3 linked regions of the Homo sapiens genome follow. The protein of the gene in region 1 interacts with the protein of each later gene in a biochemical or structural test. Each region holds a gene or a part of one and is shown in the gene's direction. Other genes may lie near its edges.

Region 1 (4,595 bases):
CTGGGTATGGCTCATAGTTGGGTAAAGCAGAGGTAGGGGTCCTGAGATACTGAGAGACTACTGGACGGGACTTGCAGCAGAAATGATTGTCTCCTACACAGTAGGAGCAGGAAGATATGTTGCCCACTAACTTGGGGGCTTCTGAACATCGTCCTAGTTCACTCACTCTCAGCAGTGGCAGGAGGAATATGAAGAAAGCAGTATTAATGGTGTTTTGGATAATTTTTATTCTCACCAATTGTGAGAATCACAATCTCTAAGTGAGATTAATTTTTCTTTGCCTTAAAATATTTTATTTTCCTTTAAGTTTAGTATTTTAAAAAGGAGGTGAGGGCTACCTTGAAGGTAGAACATCAAATACAGTCTAGGCTCCAAGATTCTGACTCCAGATAAAAAAGTTACTGATCAGGCACCTGCAATTCCAGCTATTCGGGAGCCTGAGGCAGAAGAATCACTTGAACCTGGGAGGTGGAGGTTGCAGTGAGCAGAGATGGCACCATTGTACTCCAGCCTGGGCAACAAGAGCGAGACACCATCTCAAAATAAATAAATAAATAAAAAGTTACTGATACAGCCTGGCGCGGTGGCTCACGCCTGTAATCCCAGCACTTTGGGAGATTGAGGTGGGTGGATCACAAGGTGAGGAGTTCGAGACCAGCCTGGCCAACATGGTGAAACCCGGTCTCTACTAAAAATACAAAAATTAGCCGGGCGTGGTGGCATGTGCCTGTAATCCCAGCTACTCAGGAGGCTGAGGCAGGAGAACTGCTTGAACCCGGGAGGCAGAGGTTGCAGTCAGCTGAGATCACACCATTGCATTCCAGCCTGGGTGACAGGAACGATACTCAAACTCAAAAAAAAAGAAAAAAAAAAAGTTACTGATAGGACTAGATCGTATCTTTTAGGTGCATTGAGGCAGCGAAAATTTTTGAGAACTGGTGGTTTAGAGAAGTAGAAGCTGCCATAGGTTTAAGAGTTGCACTAATACAGCTTTTCACAGGCCTCTATCACCTCTGGTTTCTCAAAATGGTTTTGCTTTTCATTTTTTAACCCTTATGGCAGCGGACAAACATAAATTGCAGAGATTCCTGACTGCTGACATGGCCCTGGTGGCGACAGTCTATGCGCCAATCACTTTTCCTCCTGCATCTGTGCTGCTTTTCAAGCAAAAAAGCAATGGTAAGTTGAGCCACAGAGATGAACAGACCCTGCAGGTCCTTAATAGATGAACACCGTTTTCTCTTGTTTATTTAAATTTGGGAGCCAAATGGTATGGAGAAGGTAATGATGGTTTTCAAAATACAGTAAGTCTTCATTTAACATTGTTAATAGAACAATGAAAACTCCAACTTTTACGTGAAACAGTGTATAGCCAGTCCTCAAATAACTGCCTTTTGTTCAACATCCTTTCCTTGTAACAACTGATGAGAAAAAGTATGGTTTTGTTATACATCATTTCTCTTGAAGTACAAGTTTTCAAGAACCTATTGACAAGGTTAAGTGTGGGCTTACAGTTTACCAATCTTAGCCTCAGATTGGGCTAGGGCAGGGATGACAAACCAGGCTCTTGCATGGGTCTTTAAATGGACTGGGCAATAAATGAAGACTTTGGCCTGTAAATTCCTAAATAGCTTCTTTGCTTTTGTCCTTTAGGAATGCACAGCCTCATTGCTACAGGCCATCTTATGTCAGTAGATCCAGACAGAATGGTCATCAAGAGAGTTGTTCTGAGTGGTCATCCTTTCAAAATTTTTACTAAGATGGCAGTAGTACGTTACATGTTCTTCAACAGAGGTGGGTATGAAGGAGGAGGATGGGATCTGATTGCCTTTGTGGTATAAAGGTTGGGTTTACATTTTGTGGGTAAATGTTTCATCTTGGTCTTTAATGTGTTTGATTCTAAGAGGATGTGCTGTGGTTTAAACCAGTGGAACTGAGAACGAAGTGGGGCCGGAGAGGACATATCAAGGAACCTTTAGGTAAGGAAACACGGGATTTGAGACCATGTCTGCATTTCTGCAGTGTTGCTAAATGACTGTTGGGTTGGAAGTCATTGCTTTAAAATTTTCTACTTTTAATTTGACCGACTTGTTCTGATGTCTTTCTAGGTACCCATGGCCACATGAAATGCAGCTTTGATGGGAAGCTAAAATCTCAAGACACAGTACTGATGAACCTGTATAAACGAGTCTTCCCCAAATGGACTTATGATCCATATGTACCAGAACCAGTACCCTGGCTGAAAAGTGAGATTTCTTCAACAGTGCCTCAAGGGGGCATGGAGTAATGGATTCAAAGAGATTCTGTCTTACCGGTGCCAGTCAGTACTCCAGGGATGGGAGGCACAAGTTGTGATTGGGCAAAGTTTATTTTCTATGTCAGCCTGTCAGTCCACTGCCCCATTTTGCAAGACTTTTTTTTAGCCTTGACAAAATGTCTCAGTTAAGTATAAAAGTTTTTCCACTACTTAGTCCAAAAAAAACTATTAAATCTTAATGAAATAGCCACTCTCCATTAAGAATCTGATAACTAAGAGTTGACAATACTAGGAAACAAAATGTCTTCAGTATCTAAAGACACTGAATTCCCACCATTTCCTTTTCTGTAAATTAAACAGAAACAGACTGATAAGAAGCTGGCCTTTCAGCCTGCTTCACCCAAGTTATGGAGGAGGTTAAGTCTACATTTCCACCACTGAGCACAATACAAATGTTCTTTACTTCTGGGGAAACAGTTTGAAAATGTTGAGACAGCACAGCAGCCACTCCAACACCAGCTGTAGGTTCAATGAGTAGTTTCATCCTCTCCCACACCAGCTGGGTTGCACACTGTTGATATGGAAGGGAGTAGGAATTAGTGAAAGGGGAGTCTAGTTGGTTTACCTATAAAGTTCAGATGAGAATACGTGTCCAGTTTGAATTTTCTTATCACTGTGTACACACGCTTCCCAAAGCTTTTCTTTAATTCTGACTCTGCTTCTGTCAAGAGGGTTGTCATTAATACATCTAGGGTACCCTCCCATGTCATGAAGTTACCTAGTCAGGTTCCCGTGGGTCACTTGCTACTCCTAAGGGAAGTTTCTTCTGCCTAAGAAGTTACACCATGCTTTGCTATTTCTTTTCTTGCTGGAGCCTCACCTTAATTTCATCCTCTGTGACAGTGAAGATATCATCCACAAGGTCCCTGATAATAGGCCAGGTGTTCAAGCCAATGCTGGATTTGACACCATCTGCTATGGTTTCTGGAGGATAAAGATTGGGCATCAGTTTCCCCTTCAGCTTGGACTGGTAGCAGTCATCTGCATTTGAGGGTTCAGCAGCATATACCTTCACACTAGGTTTCAGAGCCTGGGAAGAGGAATATTAAGACATCTTAACAACAAACCACAACATTGCCTGCATGTCTAAAAGAAAATATGGGCCTGGTGTGGTGGCTCACACCTGTAATCCCAACACTTTGGGAGCCCGAGGCGGGTGGATCAGCTGAGGTCAGGAGTTCAAGACCAGCCTGGCCAACCTGGTGAAATGCAGTGTCAACTAAAAATAGGAAAATCAGCCAGGCGTGGTGGCAGACCCCTGTAATCCCAGCTACTCAAGAGGCTGAGGTAGGAGAATCACTTGAACTTGGGAGGGGTAGGTTGCAGTGAGCTGAGATCACACCAAAATGGGGTGGGGCGCAGTGGCTCACGCCTGTAATCCCAGCACTTTGGGAGGCCGAGGTGGGCGGATCACGAGGTAGGGAGATCAAGACCATCCTGGCTAACACGGTGAAACCCCGTCTCTACTAAAAATACAAAAAAAAAAAACAAAAAAAAACTAGCCAGGCATGGTGGCAGGCACCTGTAGTCCCAGCTACTCGGGAGGCAGAGGCAGGAGAATGGCGTGAACCTGGGAGGTGGAGCTTGCAGTGAGCCAAGATCGTGCCACTGCACTCCAGCCTGGGTGACAGAGTGAGACTCCGTCTCAAAAAAAAAAAGAAAATAGGCACAATAAGTAATACATTTCTGCCCAAGTAAGAGCCTTCCCTTTTGTGGATGTAATGAAAATATCTTCAAGCACTTTATAAATAAATTATATGTCTGATACTAGCCTTCCATTGCCTGGATCACATCTGATTGTCCTGGTAATTTGAGAAAAGGGTAGCCCCTTGGTATGGATAGTAGCTTGATGACATGGAATTCAGGGAAAAGACTATGATGGTGTCACTTGTAACTGCTTTTGTGCTGTAAAATTGTCATGGATTAAGAAGAGAGTTGGCTGGGTGCGGTGGCTCACACCTGTAATCCTAGCACTTTGGGAGGCCAAAGTAAGGACTGCTTGAGCCCAGGAGTTCCAGACCAACCTGGCCAACACAGCAAGACCCCATCTCTTAAAAAAAATAAAAATATTAGAAATAATAAATAGGCCGGGCGCAGTGGCTCACGCCTGTAATCCCAACACTTTGGGAGGCCAAGGCGGGTGGATCGCAAGGTCAGGAGTTCAAGACCAGCCTGACCAACATGGTGAAACCCTGTCTCTACTAAAAAAAATACAAAAAAATTAGCGGGGTGTGGTGGCTCATGCCTGTAATCCCAGCTACTCAGGAGGCTGAGACAG
Region 2 (7,033 bases), on another chromosome or scaffold:
TACCATCTTAGCAAAGCAGATCTTCAAATTCATGAACATAGTATATCTCACCATTTAAATTTCATCATCAATGTTATTCAGTTTTAGTGTAGAGATCTTACATCTTATAATAAGCTTATTGCTAAGTATTTTATAGTTTTTTATGCTGTCATAAATGCAGTTTTTTCTCAGCTCTCTGCTAGTATGTTAAAATACAATTGGTTTTTTAAAATACTAATCTTGTATCCTATGAATTTACTAATATCATGCATTAGGTCTGGTAGTCATTTTGTAGATTCCTTAGGATCTTTAGAAATGCATGTTTTCTGTATGTGTGGATTTTTTCCCTCAATTTGCTTTTTTTCCCCAATATGTGTTGAAATTTCCCCTGTGGATCTGCACGCGCCACCCCACCTTGCCTTTATGAGGACAAGCTTGCAAAGTTTGTCCTTGCTGTTCCTCCCGTTGCAGGGCCCTCCCACTCCTGGAGGCCTCCCCCGGTCACTCTCCATCCCTTGCTTTGCTTTGTTTTGTCCACATACCTCCCCAGTGCCCAGGTAGCGCCTCTATGCTCCACCACACAGCCTGTGCCCCAGCCGTGCCGTGGACAGTGGCTCCCCATGCCCTGTGGGCGGGAGGGTGGGTAGTTGGAACCACACACATGTCCCACTTGACTTTCCCAACCCTCAGTTGTCCTCCAAGGCGGCTGGGCCAGTTCACACCCACCCATCAGCTCCCTCCGTCCTCGAACACTCGATATTATGAAACATTTAAAAATTTGCCAGTCTATGAGGTGCAACATTTCCTTGATTTCTAATCCAGTCGAGTGGCTCCTGCTGTATTTTTTGGCCTTTGATTCCTCTTTGTTTTTAGTATTTAATTCATACATACTGATTTTTAGGAACAGTGTGAGAGGGACTCTGACTCTTTCCCCAGGAGGACCCCAGTTTATCTAACCTCACGTGTCATGCTCACACTTTGCCTGGTCTGCCCTGCGTCCACTGAGTGTTCATCAGCACTTTTGCCACGCTGTTAATTTCTGTTATTTTATAATTTGCTTTAATATCCGATAGCCCTACTTTCTTGTTGCTTGTTCTTTGTAAAAAATGTTTTTACTATTCTTATGCATTTAGTTGTTTTTAAAACATAAAGTTTAGAATTAGCTGCACAGGTTTGACTAAAAATCCCGTTGAAATTTTAGCTGAGGCAGCATCCGATTTTTCCGGAGTAACTGACAGAGAAGAACTGCACTCTCCCGTTGGTTCTCCTGGCTGCTTGGAAGCTGGTGTTTGTGTGGGACCTCCCCTAGGTGCTGCAGATGAGAGCAGTGCTGAGTGTTCCCAGGCCGTGGGTCCCGCCCCGCCACTGCCTCGCTCCCTCCCTCCCCCTCAGAATTGAGTGGGCCGGGTGGGATTGTCGATATTGTGGTCATCTTTTCCTTGCTCGGATTTATCATTGAGTGTCTAATGTTTTGCCCTGAAATGTGATACTCACTGTGGGTTTCTAGCAGCTCATCTGTCAAGGAGCTTCCTTCCGTTTGTGGTTTCATTGTAATTTTTCTCATGCGTGGGCAGTGAATTGTGCAGAATCCTCTGCACACTGGTGGTGGTGACCATAGGCTTTCTTGCCTCTTGAGTGGCCACTGTGGAGGGTCACCCTGAGGCATTTCCCGGGAGAACCATCCTTGCATGCCTGGGGCTCACCCTGCTTGGGCACAAGGTATCCTTCTTTTGAAAGGCTTCTGGCTTTGGCTTGCTGAGGTGCGGGCCTTTGTGTCTGTCCTCACGGGAACCACATGCCTCTGCTTTGCTTTTCCTGGCCTGGGTCTGCAGCCTGTGAAGGAGCCATCTGGCCTGGCCCGCCCCTCCCTACCCCAGCTTCCAGGGTGCCCTGGCTCTCTTTTAATGAGGTGCCGAGTAACGTGTCTACCACAGTCCAGGCAGGGTGGAGTAAGCGCTGGATTCTTACCTTATAAACCCCCGTGATTCCCAAGGCTGTGGAGAGCTGGTGTACACCTTCCAAGCTCTCAACCTGCACTGGGGGCTGAGGACCCAGAGGAAGGGTGGTCTTTGTCCCAGGTTCTTGTCAGTGATTTGGAGCCAGGTAAACACACCCTGCTACAGGGACCCAGGGCAGGGTGGCATCCCCTGATTTCGGGTTGGTCAGGGTGGGCCCTTCACACCTTGTTCTGCGAGCCACCTGCCCTGGGGGCTGAGAGGGGCGCCGCTGTCCCAGACAGCGGGATTGGAGAGGAGCTGGCTGTTGTCACCTCTGGAAACCTGGGCATTCCCCCCAGGGGGCACAGGTCTGCCATGCCCGGGCCTGTGTCACGAGCTGGCAGTGTTTGAGCTGCAGGCCTGTCCCGGTGGGTTGCCCTGAAGAGAGCAGGCCGTCCGCGCTCCACAGCCTCCAGGAGCCACGTGCAGTGAGCAGCATGTCCGAGCATGTGTTCTCTTAGCAGTTTTGAGATAAATACATTTTTAAATTAAATCAAATCCCAAGGCCATACCCCTTCTGTCCAGACCCTGCCCAAATCCCTTCTCTAGCGTGGAGGCCTCAGCCCTACCTGCCACCCCCCATGGCCCCAAGCCCTCAGGTCTGTCCTGGGGCTTCTCCCCTTCCCTCTGGGGAGCCCTCTCCCTCCTGGGAACAAAGCTGAGCCTCCCAGGCTGTGACTTGCCATCTTAAGTTGAGGGCCCCTTTTCCTCATTCCCCTCTGTCCCCTCTGCTCGGTGGCTGTGTGCACTCCCCTACGCGTGCTCCGGCCACAGTTGCCAGCGTCCCTTTGCAGGAGAAATCCTCAGTGGCTGCAGTTCCACCTCATTGTCAGCCCTGCGATTAAAAAGCGCAGCTCTGTCATTAAGGGGAAGAAAATAACTCAAGCCTGCCCGCCCTGCAGGTTCCCAGGGGCGGAATGGGGGTGACAGCGGGAAGGAGAGAGGCAGCAGGGCCGGGCACCCTGCCAGGTCTCTCGTGGGCCAGAGGCTCTGGGCCTGGGCTCCTCCTCTGCCTCTTGTTTGCCTCTAACGTCGTTTCTCCTTCCTTAGAAATCGAAGCCATAAAACTGGCTGAGCAGAAGCACAGGGAGGAGCGGAGGCGGAGGGCCACGGTGGTGGTGGGGGACCTGCACCCTCTCAGGGATGCCCTGCCCGAGCTGCTGGGGCTCGAGGCTGGCAGCCGGCGCCAAGCCCGCAGGTGAGTGTCCGGGAGGGGTGGCCCTTTCCGAGCTGTGGGGCTGACCCGGGTCCAGAGGTGGAGGGATATGAGTGGGAGCCACGGGCCACGGTGCTTCCTGAGCCTGCAGAGGCCGAGAGCTGGGGCTCCAGCCGGTGCTCCGCACAGGTACCCTGTTCTCAGGGCGTGAGCTCGTGAGGCCCGTGGGGGCTGTGGGGGACGTTTCGGGGGCACCCAGGCCCACCCTTGTGAGGAGCCTGGTGGCTCTGCTGATGCCGAGCTCCCTCATGTGCCCCTCCCCCGACATTGACCACAGCTCCTGCCGGGTCCCACTGGGGGTCCCCCCAACTCACTGTTCTGCCACAGCCTCCACCCCACAGAGACCCTGCTGTGCTCAGCTGAGGCCCCTGAGCATCCACCATGCTCTTCTCGTGCCTCTGACAGGGGCTGCAGTCTCCCCTCCTGAGTGGACCTTTCCCTGATGCCCACCTAACACTGCACACCCTGTCCTGCCCCTCACTCTGTCGCACAGAGGGTGGCCCGTGAGGACGGCTCAGGCCTGCTGTCGGGTGTGGTGAGCGTGTGGGACCCACTCATGCAGGGCCCTGGGACACACATCCCAGAGCTTGTCCTCATGGGGCGGGAGCTGCCTCGTGCGTCCTCCCCAGGAGGGACGGGGCCTGATGTGAGTGCGGTTGCTCTCCCGAGCTGTACCTACCTGTGTGGGAAGCACATGCCTCCCAGCCTCACCACGGGTCTGGATGTGGTTTGTTCTTCAGGAAAGAGGCAGGCCCCTGCCCCACCCTTGGCTGCTGGCATCACAGCGCCCCTCCCCCGCCCCCTGCTGAGAGCTGGGGTGGTGGGTTCTGGGCCCTTAGTGCATGAGTGGCCAAGCCAGCGGGCCTGGGCCTGGGCCTGGACCCCAGTGGGGCCCCTCCACCCCCCTGCCCTGGGCAAGGCCTGGTCCCGAGCATGAGCCCTCCTCCTGACGCACTGAGGTGCTCCCTCCAGAACCCCATCACCCAGTGACACAACCCCGCCACCCAGTGACGCAACCCCCAGTGACACAACCCTGCCACCCGGTGACGCAACCCCCAGTGACACAACCCCCAGTGACGCAACCCCGCCACCCAATGAAGATACCACCACCCGGTGACGCAACCCCACCACCCATTGAGCCATTTGCCAGTGGCAGGTTCCATGTGCCCTGACAATGTGGACAGTGTTCCATGTGCCAGCCTGCTGTGGTGTGTGCACCCCAGGACGGCTCAACCAGGAGGGCAGCGGCTGCATGACCCTCCCTGTCACCTCGCAGGGGATGCAGCCTGCTGATAAGCTGCTGCCTGTGGCGCCCGTCTCCCAGGAGCTTGGCTTTCAGGCTCTTTGTGCCTGGGTCACATGCACGTGAAAGGAGAGCAGCCTCTGCCCTTCCCCTGTGGCTGGAAGGCACCACCCAGGTGTGGGTGCTGAGGCTCTGGGCTCAGGCGGGGGCTGTGTAGCCACAGCCCAGCTTTCAGGGCTGGAAAGAGGCCGGACCACTCTGTTCTGTCTCAGCTTCTGGGCCTTCCTCATTCATTTGTGTCATCTCTGTGCTTTTTTTTTTTTTTTTTGGAGACGGAGCCTTGCTCTGTCCCCCAGGCTGGAGTGCAGTGGCACGATCTTGGCTCACTGCAAGCTCCGCCTCCTGGGTTCACACCATTCTCCTGCCTCAGCCTCCCAAGTAGGTGGGACTACAGGCGCCCGCCACCATACCTGGCTAATTTTTTGTATTTTTAGCGGAGACGGGGTTTCACCGTGTTAGCCAGGATGGTCTAGATCTCCTGACCTCGTGATCCAGCCGCCTCGGCCTCCCAAAGTGCTGGGATTACAGGCGTGAGCCACCGCGCCTGGCCTAATTTTGCTGTTTAAAAAATAATTTTCTTTCTCCTACTAACTTTCCATCTGGGCAGAAAGCAGGGGCTGTGTGCAGTGTCAAACCTGGGGTCCATCCTTTCATGGCCCAGCTGCCCAGGCTCGAGGGTGGCAGGTCACGCGCTGCAGGCCCAGGCAGCTCCAGGCTGGCATCCCGCGGCGGAGGCACCAGAGCACTGGGTCCAGAATAGGAGCGGCCGCCCGGAGTGGCGATGTGATGACCGAACATTCCTGGTTCTTGGACAAAAATGTGACCCTGGTCAAGTATCCTTTCCCTGTTTTCAGTTTTCTCATCTGAAAAATGTGCTTGGCGCTCCCAGAAGGGAGAGGGCTGTATCAACACCCAGCCCCCAGGCCGAGGAGGATGTGCCCCTGCCTCCCTGCGGGGCTCTGGGCCGGGAAGGCACATCTGCTCTCAGCCCTGAGAGCCTCCTGTCGCTGGGAGTCCCCGTCCCTCCTCAGATGTGGCTCAGGCAGCAGTGCCTCCTGACCCTGGGGGAGCTCTTGGAATCAGCCCTATTTTAGACAGGCTTTAGATTCGTAGAAAAATGGCAAAGATGGTGCCAAGAGCTCCATGCAGCTCCCCCGTCCCCGCATGCTGTTGCTCTGACATGAGTGTGGTACGTTCGTCACATGGAAGGAACCAGTATCAACAGAGAAATAGTGAGCGTTAAGTAATTAATAGTTAACTAAAGCCCATACCTTAGGTTTCCTTCATTTTTCCCTAACGGACTCTTTCTGCCTCAGGATCCGTACAGGATCCCACGTGACATTCAGATGTCATGGCTCCCTCGGCCCGTCTTGGCTGTGAGTTTCTCAGACTCCTCTTGGTTTTAATGACCTTGACTGTTCTGAGGAAGCTGCCTGTCAGCTGAAGATCTGTCTGATGTTTTTCTAATGGGTACAGGAAGGGACTGGGTTTGGGGAGGAAGCCCCCAGAGGCGAAGTGCCACTGTCACTCCACTGTATTGGGCACACCCTGTCACCTGACTCACCGTGAGGCTGAGCTGGCCCCTGCTGGGTTGAGACCCCCCCTCCATGCTGTCCGCTTTGGGAGGAAGTCGCTCTGCAGCCCTGGCCTCGGGGTGGGGGTTGTGCTCTACCTCCTGGAAGACACAGCAGTGACAGAGACTGTTTGGAATCCTGCTGGGAAAGGAGCTTTGTCTCTTCTCCCCGTGTATGTGTCGCTCATGCGCCGGTGTTGGTCTGGACAGATGGATGTTTAGTTTACACACAGCGTTACTTGATTTTGGTGCCGAAACTGTTCCAGCATTGGCCGCTGGGAGTTCTTGCAGTTGCCCCCAGCTCCCTTTGGCCCCATTGACGTGGGGGTCGTATTTTTAGCTCTTTCCCACTGCCGAGCACCAACAGGTAACCCAGGCGCATCTTGGACATCTCCTGCCAGTCCTGCTGTTTCTCTAGGGAGCCCTGGCCCCTGTATTGCAGGAGGTGTGAGACCCTGAGATCTGGGGCTCGGTGCGCCTGTCCCAGGATCTGGGGTTTGGCGTGCCTGGGCGGCGGGCCGTGTCTCTGGGAACTGCATCTTGGTCCCGGCAGGCAGGTCTGCCCCACTGACCACCACTCTTGGACTCTGATGTGCTTTGGGCTTGAGGGGTCAGCAGGCGAGCACCAGTGGCCTGGGAGGCTGGAGGGTGGACAGCCTCTCCCTCCCAGCCTGGAGCTCTGTCTCTCACTTCTCCCCTTCCCACCTAGTGGGGAGAACATATGGCTTGGGCTGGCAGAGCTGTCCTTGTGGAACCCAAGCATTGGGTCCTTGCCCCACGGCCCCTCCCAACCCTCAGTCCCCTCAGTCCCCTCCCAACCCAGCTCCCTCAATCCCCTGTCCTGGCGCCCTGCCCTGAGGGCCTCATGCCCCTGGGGTGCAGGATGCAGAGCTGGAATCTCAGAGGCCAGGGCAGGGCCCGTGTTTGGGGTCCACGTCACTCCTGGCTGGGAAGCAGGCATCGAG
Region 3 (7,033 bases), on another chromosome or scaffold:
GTCTGAGTTGTTTATTCAGCAGAGAAGATAACAATATAATTTCTAACTTTAACAAGGCAGAAGCAGATTTAACTTGATGTGCTTCTTGAATAGTAGGCTTTGGGCATGGAGAATGAGCAAACAACTGCAACAGAACTGGAAAACAGGAGAACATGGTTTTAAGGAGATGGAGCTTATCGGAAGGTGTATTTTATATAAATATATAATCTTTTAGATTTATCAATATTTTAATATCTTACATCATAAATATGTGAGATCAGTTAGGGTATGTGGAAATATTGTTATGAAATAATAAAACATTGTTATTTCTAGTGAAAACAGAGACTTGAAGACAGTCAAAGAGAAGGATGACATTCTGTTTGAAGACCTTCAAGACAATGTGAATGAGAATGGTGAAGGTGAAATAGAAGATGAGGAGGAGGAGGGTTATGACGATGATGATGATGACTGGGACTGGGATGAAGGAGTTGGAAAACTCGCCAAGGGTTATGTCTGGAATGGAGGAAGCAACCCACAGGTATTTTATAAAGGATCCTGCACATCTTTATGTAGTCTGCTTATGTCTACTTTTTTAAAAGGCTGTTTTGTGATTCTGAAATTGAATAACTAAAAGATTTTCTTCATGTTATATTGTCCTGTAGCCTCAGCCTTTACTGATTTTCACTTTTCATCCTTTCTGTATTTCTGATAATTTCCTGGGTGTGGATTCTTTCCAGAATCTGTAAATTTAAAAAGAGTTATAAAGATTGTGAGCTTAAAATCTTCATGGGAAAGGGCATGGATTGGCAGTTTACTACAAATAGTTAAGAAACATGGTAAAAAAGTTCAGCCTCATTGGTAATTAAAGAAATGCAGATTAAATTTGTAGAGATGCCGTTTTTTCACCTGTGAAACTGTTAAAGACAAAACATATCATTGATGGTCAAGTAAATAGGTGCACTTACTTGTAGGATAAGCTGGTATGTGATAAAAACTTTAAAAGCTTCAAAATACTTTGACTTAGCGATTCTGTGAGTGTGCCAAGACTTAGTTACAAGAATGATCCTCCAGGATTGTTTATGGTAGAGGAACATTGGAAGCAACCTTGAACGGGATTAAACCTGCTATGGGACTGATTCGCACAATGAGGCATTATACAGCCATAAAAGATGTTGTAATGGAAGACTGTATTAATGAGATAGGAATATGTTTGTGATTATTTACCATGTACAAAAAAAAGTTACCAAACCACGTACAGCTGCTGCTCATACTGGAAGTACCAAGTGTGTTAGGAGTTTGTAAGGCCATAGGATTAACATGGTACATCTTCCTGGAGCATAAAGGTTAATCCAGCAGTCTTCCTTTGACCATTAAAATGGCTATATCGGCTGGGCGCAGTGGCTCCTGCCTCTAATCCCAGCACTTTGGGAGGCCGAGCTGGGCGGATCACCTGAGATCAGGAGTTTGAGACCAGCCTGGCCAACATGGCGAAACCCTGTCTCTACTAAAAACACAAAAATTAGCCGGGCGTGGTGGTGGGTGCCTGTAATCCCAGCTACTCGGGAGGCTGAGGCTGGAGAATCGCCTGAACCCAGGAGGCGGAGGTTGCAGTGAGCCAAGATCACACCACTGCACTCCAGCCTGGGCAACAGAGCGAGACTCTGTCTGTAAAAAACAACAACAATAAAATGGCTATATCATGGACCAGAATGTGTGCATTTTAAAATAACCACATTGTGAGTGACGACAAATTTTGCATTTTTATATCGTCTTGTTCTGGTGACTCCTTCACTGATTCATAATGAGGCTTTGAGCAATTTCATTATTGAAGTTTGCGCATAGCACCAGCGTAAGTGCTGAGCCTCGTACTTAATATTTCCCTCTCTTGAGACATTGGGCCCAAAATGAAATTCTGAACCAGCTTAATGCTGGTCTTAGCTCTTTATTATATACTTTGGGGGTAAATGAACATTCTCAAATTTTAAGTCTATAAACCAGTCAAATTAGAAAACTACACTTAATTTTAATCTGTTACTTATAATAAGAGGAATCATAGAGAAGTTAAAAAAACGGATTATGCAGACTCTTTTAGTCAGTAATTTTAACCTTCTGTTTCAAATGCTCTTTAAAAAATTTTTTGAGCCAATTTGATTGACTCTTACCTTTCCTTAAGATACTCCTCTAAGTATTGATGCTTTAATAGCTAAGTATGAACTAAGGAAATGTGATGATGAATCTTAGGTTTGTTTTTACAGCTAGTGCCTTAGACTCTGGAATTCCCTTCTAGGCAAATCGACAGACCTCCGACAGCAGTTCAGCCAAAATGTCTACTCCAGCAGACAAGGTCTTACGGAAATTTGAGAATAAAATTAATTTAGGTGAGTTTACAAAATACATCACTGGGCTAAGAGGACATTTTTCAAAAACCATGGAGTGTTGTATAATTTTATTAGATCAAGAAATGAAGGCTGGCCGTGGTGGCTCACGCCTGTAATCCCGGCACTTTGGGAGGCTGAAGTGGGTGGATCACCTGAGGTCAGGAGTTTGAGACCAGCCTGACCAACATAGTGAAACCCTATCTCTACTAAAAATACAAAATTAGCTGGGCGTGGTGGCACATGCCTGTAATCCCAGCTACTTGGGAGGCTGAGGCAGGAGAATCCCTTGAACCTGGGAGGTGGAGGTTGTGATGAGCCGAGATTGTGCCGTTGCACTCCAACCTGGACAATAAGGGCAAAATTCCATCTCAAAAAAAAAAAAAAAGAAAAAAGGAATGAATGTATTCAAGTGTTACTAACTCAATAATGTTTAGAGAAAATAAAAATCGTAATTTAAAAACATAACTTTAGGAAAAGACTTAAGCTTATGCTATTTTGGTTGTTTTCCCACTTGCCATAGGAATGTAATGTTACAAAAACCCATTTAAGTATTGTCTGTTCGGTTTTAGGTTTTTTTTTTTTTTGAGACAGGGTCTCACTCTGTCACCCAGGCTAGAGTGCAGTGGCACGATCTTGGCTCACTCCAACCCTGATTTCTGGGGTTCAGACGATCCTCCCACCTTAGCCTCCCAAGTAGCTAGGACCACAGGTGCACACCACCACACCCGGCCAATTTTTATTTTCTGTAGAGACGGGGTTTCTCCATGTTGACCAGGCTGGTTTTGAACTCCTGAGCTCAAGTGATCTGTCCGCCTCAGCCTCCCAAAATGTTGGGATTACAGGTGTGAGCCACTGCGCCTGGCCTGTTTTAGATTTTGTAATAGGGTTATCTCATAGTAGGATGTTGAAAATACTAGAGTATTGAATATAGTTACATACGGTTTCACTAGAGGTTTTTTGTGTAGGTGTTAATTATTTAGTGACCTGTTCGATGCCAGGCATCAGAATGTTAATTTGAATCATCATCTCATAGAAAATGTAAGAGGGATGGAGGGAAGGAAGGAAGGCCATCTTTCTATTCTTGTGGATCTTCACTCTAAACCTAACACAGTGTTTCTCATATAAGCTGTCAATACATGCTAAATTAATATAAGTATTTTAGGGCCTTCTTTGCCTATCATAGACTTATAACTTGAAGTGAAACAAGTTTTTAGAATTAAACTTGAAATTCAGGCAGTTTTATTAGTCATGTGGAGTACTAGCAAGTGTCTGAAATTTATTATGCAAATTATTATCTTTGAAGAATTTCTGCATCTAGAATTCTGTGGCTCAAATATTATAGCTGTAGTGATGAAAGTGACACTTACGAAGGAAACGCAGTTTAGTGCCTACTTTTAAAAACATTACATTGTTTTCATTACTAAACTGTATTCTATTTACAATAAAACATTTAGAAAGTGTAGAAGAGAAGGAAGAGGGGAGAAATACCCTGTTCAGCAACTCTGTTAATGTCTTTTCGTCTTACATATTGTTTACATTGTGGGTTTCTTGTATTTTAGATAAGCTAAATGTTACTGATTCCGTCATAAATAAAGTCACCGAAAAGTCTAGACAAAAGGAAGCAGATATGTAAGTAATATTTTAATAATATGCATGGGTGATAAGGACTAATCTAGATTAAGCAGCACCTTGATCATAATTCTTTTACAGAGGATGTTCATTTGTATACTTAAACCAATCATTATTTTGGTGTGTGTGTGTGTGTGTGTGTGTGTGTTTTCCTTAGCTTAAATTAGGATAACCTATGCCTTTGTGAATTAAAAATATTAATGAATCTTGGCTGGGTGTGGTGGCTCATGCCTGTAATCCCATCACTTCAGAAGGCCGAGCTGTGGGGATCACTTGAGGCCAGGAGTTTGAGACCAGCCTGGCCAACATGGTGAAACCATGTCTGTACAAAAAATACAAAAATTAGCCAGACATGGTGGTGCACGCCTGTAATCCCAGCTACTCAGGAGGCTGAGGTGTGAGAATCTCTTGAACCTGGGAGGTGGAGGTTGCAGTGAGCCAAGATCGTGCCACTGCACTCCAGCCTGGGCCACAGAGCGAGACTCCATCTCAAAAATAAATACATAAAATAAAAATTAATGAATTTTAAGAAATACATGGTAAAAGTGTAATCTCATGAAATTTACAAATGTGTTCTTATGAGGGGAACAGTGTTTGTAGATTTCAGTTTAAACTAAAATGTGCAAAAATGTTCCCTTAAAATTTATTAAGAATTATTCTTTCCCATGAAGTATTTTTAAAAATTTAAGGGAAGACTATGAACTAATGATATAACTGAGAACTGTTTCTGTTTACACTTCTGTTCTCAAAGCCAATTGTTTAAGATCTGAATAACTTCTCTTATATGCTAATAACTCTAAAGTATTATCACTATATTATAGAAAACGACACTAAGATCATACAACTAACTGTGAGAATTGAACGTAAAAGCCAGCTTTCTTCCAATTTATTGCTATGTCCAAGAGGTATCAGCTTTTTGAGATACACCATAGTTATTTGTTATTTCACTGGTATCTGTTTGAATCTTTGTGTTTAAACCTTTATTAGTTTAGGTTAGTGTGCTAGGTGGAGTCACTCAGTGTATAAGCAGAAGCAAATCAGAGTCTGCATTTGAATACTGTCTTGAAACGATTTTAAAAAACAAAACTGCCAGGTGCAGTGGCTCACGCCTGTAATCCCAGCACTTTGGGAGGCAGAGGCGGGCGGATCACAAGGTCAGGAGATCGAGACCATCTTGGCTAACAAGGTGAAATCCTGTCTCTACTAAAAATACAAAAAAATTAGCCGGGCTTGGCGGCGGGCGCCTGTAGTCCCAGCTACTCGGGAGGCTGAGGCAGGAGAATGGCGTGAACCCGGGAGGCAGAGCTTGCAGTGAGCCGAGATCGTGCCACTGCACTCCAGCCTGGGCGACAGAGCGAGACTCCATCTCAAAACAAACAAACAAAAACAAAAACAAAAAAACTTGTATCTTCTTAGAAAATGCCTCTAAACAGAAAGCCTTGTAAATGACTAACTCTATGTGGAGGCTGGGGCAGGAGGAATACTTGAGCCCAGGAGTCTATGCCTAGCCTGGGCAACATAGTAAGATGCTGTCTCTTTAAAAAAAAAAAAGAAGACAAGACTTTAATTGTGTGCTAACAGAATCATTAAAGATGTGAAGGACAGTACAAATATACTCAATGTTTTCTCTTTTTCAGCATAGTTCACTTTACCCTGGCGGCTCTTTGATGCTTCTGAAATAGGAATAGATTTTTCTTTTTACTGTATACATACTCCTTTTGCCAAAATACAGAATTGAATTTTGGTATTCAGGGGAAATGAAGAAAGTTTCACTGAGTAATGAAAAATCTACAATCATATCATAAAATCTGTTATTTAGAGAAACTACCTACTTAGGAATTTTCATGAAATTATCTACATTTAGAAGATTTTGGCTTCTCACTGAATTTTGAATGTGTCAACTATACGTTTTTGTTTTTGGTTAGGTATCGCATCAAAGATAAGGCAGACAGAGCAACTGTAGAACAGGTACAATTTAAATGTGTTGCAAACTCTTCTTTTTAATTAGCATTTCTTCTCTCTTTGAATTGTAGTTTGCTTTTATCCTTTTTGCTTAATGCTAATGTTACCTAAAATTACTCCTATATAAAATTATTCCTTTTTATAGTTTCGAGTTTAGAGACCTACATCTTGCTTTTATAGGACTATTGGATGAATTAGAGTCATGGTCCTTCAGTGGCCTTGCAGAGCCACCATGCGATGCTTTCCCTTCTTGGAGAGATTATCAGACCAGCAATCTTTTAGAAAAGGTCCGTAGGAATTTTGTGAGCTTTCCCAGAAGATAGGTAGGGTATCTGCCACAAAGCAGGAAGTGTGGGTGTAAAAGAGAGAGGGGCAGATAATGTCTTCAAATTTCCAGTTAGGAATCCTTTGTTTAGAAATTATGCTTGTTTTATTCTTTCTATTCAAGAATGGGGAAAAATTGGCCCCTAATTTTCCCACATTCCGAAGAATGTGATTGGATATTAGCCTTGGCCCAGATTTTTGATGTGAAGAAAGTGATAAAAAGAGTCAGAACATTTGCCTCTGCCACCTACCACTCCTTTCCACCACCCCCTCCCATATACACAAGCACATGTTCTGAATTCCACCATTAGACAGAAGCCGGGTCTGTGGTCTGTGTCTTCATTGTCCCCTAGTTTATTTTGTGATTTATTTCTGTAATTGAAAACAAAGTATGGTTCACCTCGGAAAAATGAGATAGCCTTAAGTTTCAAAGACCCTAAATAACTTTAGGGTTATTTTTGGCAGGAAATTCTTTTTCTCTTTCAAAATTAATTTTGAATGATAGAGTACATAGCTGGAGTCTTCAGCTGTCTATATAAAATATATGCTTGTGTGTAAATTTATCATTTCTCTTTCCCTGTTTTGTTCTTAAGCCATCTGGTTTGTTACTTCTTCCTATGCCCCTGACTTGTCTAACTGCCAACTTCGCAGAAGCACAGTTCTGTACCTAGAGGCCCATACTCAGCCAGCTGACTTCCCCTCTTTGCTTACCTGTGCAGTAGAGAAGAAATGGAAACTAGTGCCTTTTCATTCTTCTCTAG

What was found. The genes of interacting proteins can lie anywhere in the genome.
Region 2: the proteins of TSR1 (region 1) and SLX9 are reported together in a solved structure, tested with the Homo sapiens proteins (one study listed by BioGRID).
Region 3: the proteins of TSR1 (region 1) and RIOK1 are reported together in a solved structure, tested with the Homo sapiens proteins (one study listed by BioGRID).

Annotation. Positions count from the first base shown.
Region 1 is NC_000017.11:2,321,888-2,326,482, reverse strand, and holds the end of TSR1 (pre-rRNA-processing protein TSR1 homolog), read left to right. Parts: intron 1-1,062; coding exon 1,063-1,179; intron 1,180-1,218; exon of another isoform or gene 1,219-1,653; coding exon 1,654-1,794; exon of another isoform or gene 1,795-1,904; coding exon 1,905-1,979; exon of another isoform or gene 1,980-2,108; coding exon 2,109-2,287; 3' UTR 2,288-2,609; coding exon of another isoform or gene 2,610-2,828; 3' UTR 2,829-3,137; coding exon of another isoform or gene 3,138-3,347; 3' UTR 3,348-4,087; downstream 4,088-4,595. Other genes in the region: SRR (serine racemase), read right to left, coding at 2,610-2,828, 3,138-3,347. UniProt on the Homo sapiens protein: Required during maturation of the 40S ribosomal subunit in the nucleolus.
Region 2 is NC_000021.9:44,964,008-44,971,040, forward strand, and holds part of SLX9 (ribosome biogenesis protein SLX9 homolog), read left to right. Parts: intron 1-3,026; coding exon 3,027-3,174; intron 3,175-7,033. UniProt on the Homo sapiens protein: May be involved in ribosome biogenesis.
Region 3 is NC_000006.12:7,392,787-7,399,819, forward strand, and holds part of RIOK1 (serine/threonine-protein kinase RIO1), read left to right. Parts: exon of another isoform or gene 1-76; coding exon of another isoform or gene 77-183; intron 184-312; coding exon 313-517; intron 518-2,234; exon of another isoform or gene 2,235-2,266; coding exon 2,267-2,357; intron 2,358-3,916; coding exon 3,917-3,986; intron 3,987-5,911; coding exon 5,912-5,954; intron 5,955-7,033. UniProt on the Homo sapiens protein: Involved in the final steps of cytoplasmic maturation of the 40S ribosomal subunit. Involved in processing of 18S-E pre-rRNA to the mature 18S rRNA. Required for the recycling of NOB1 and PNO1 from the late 40S precursor.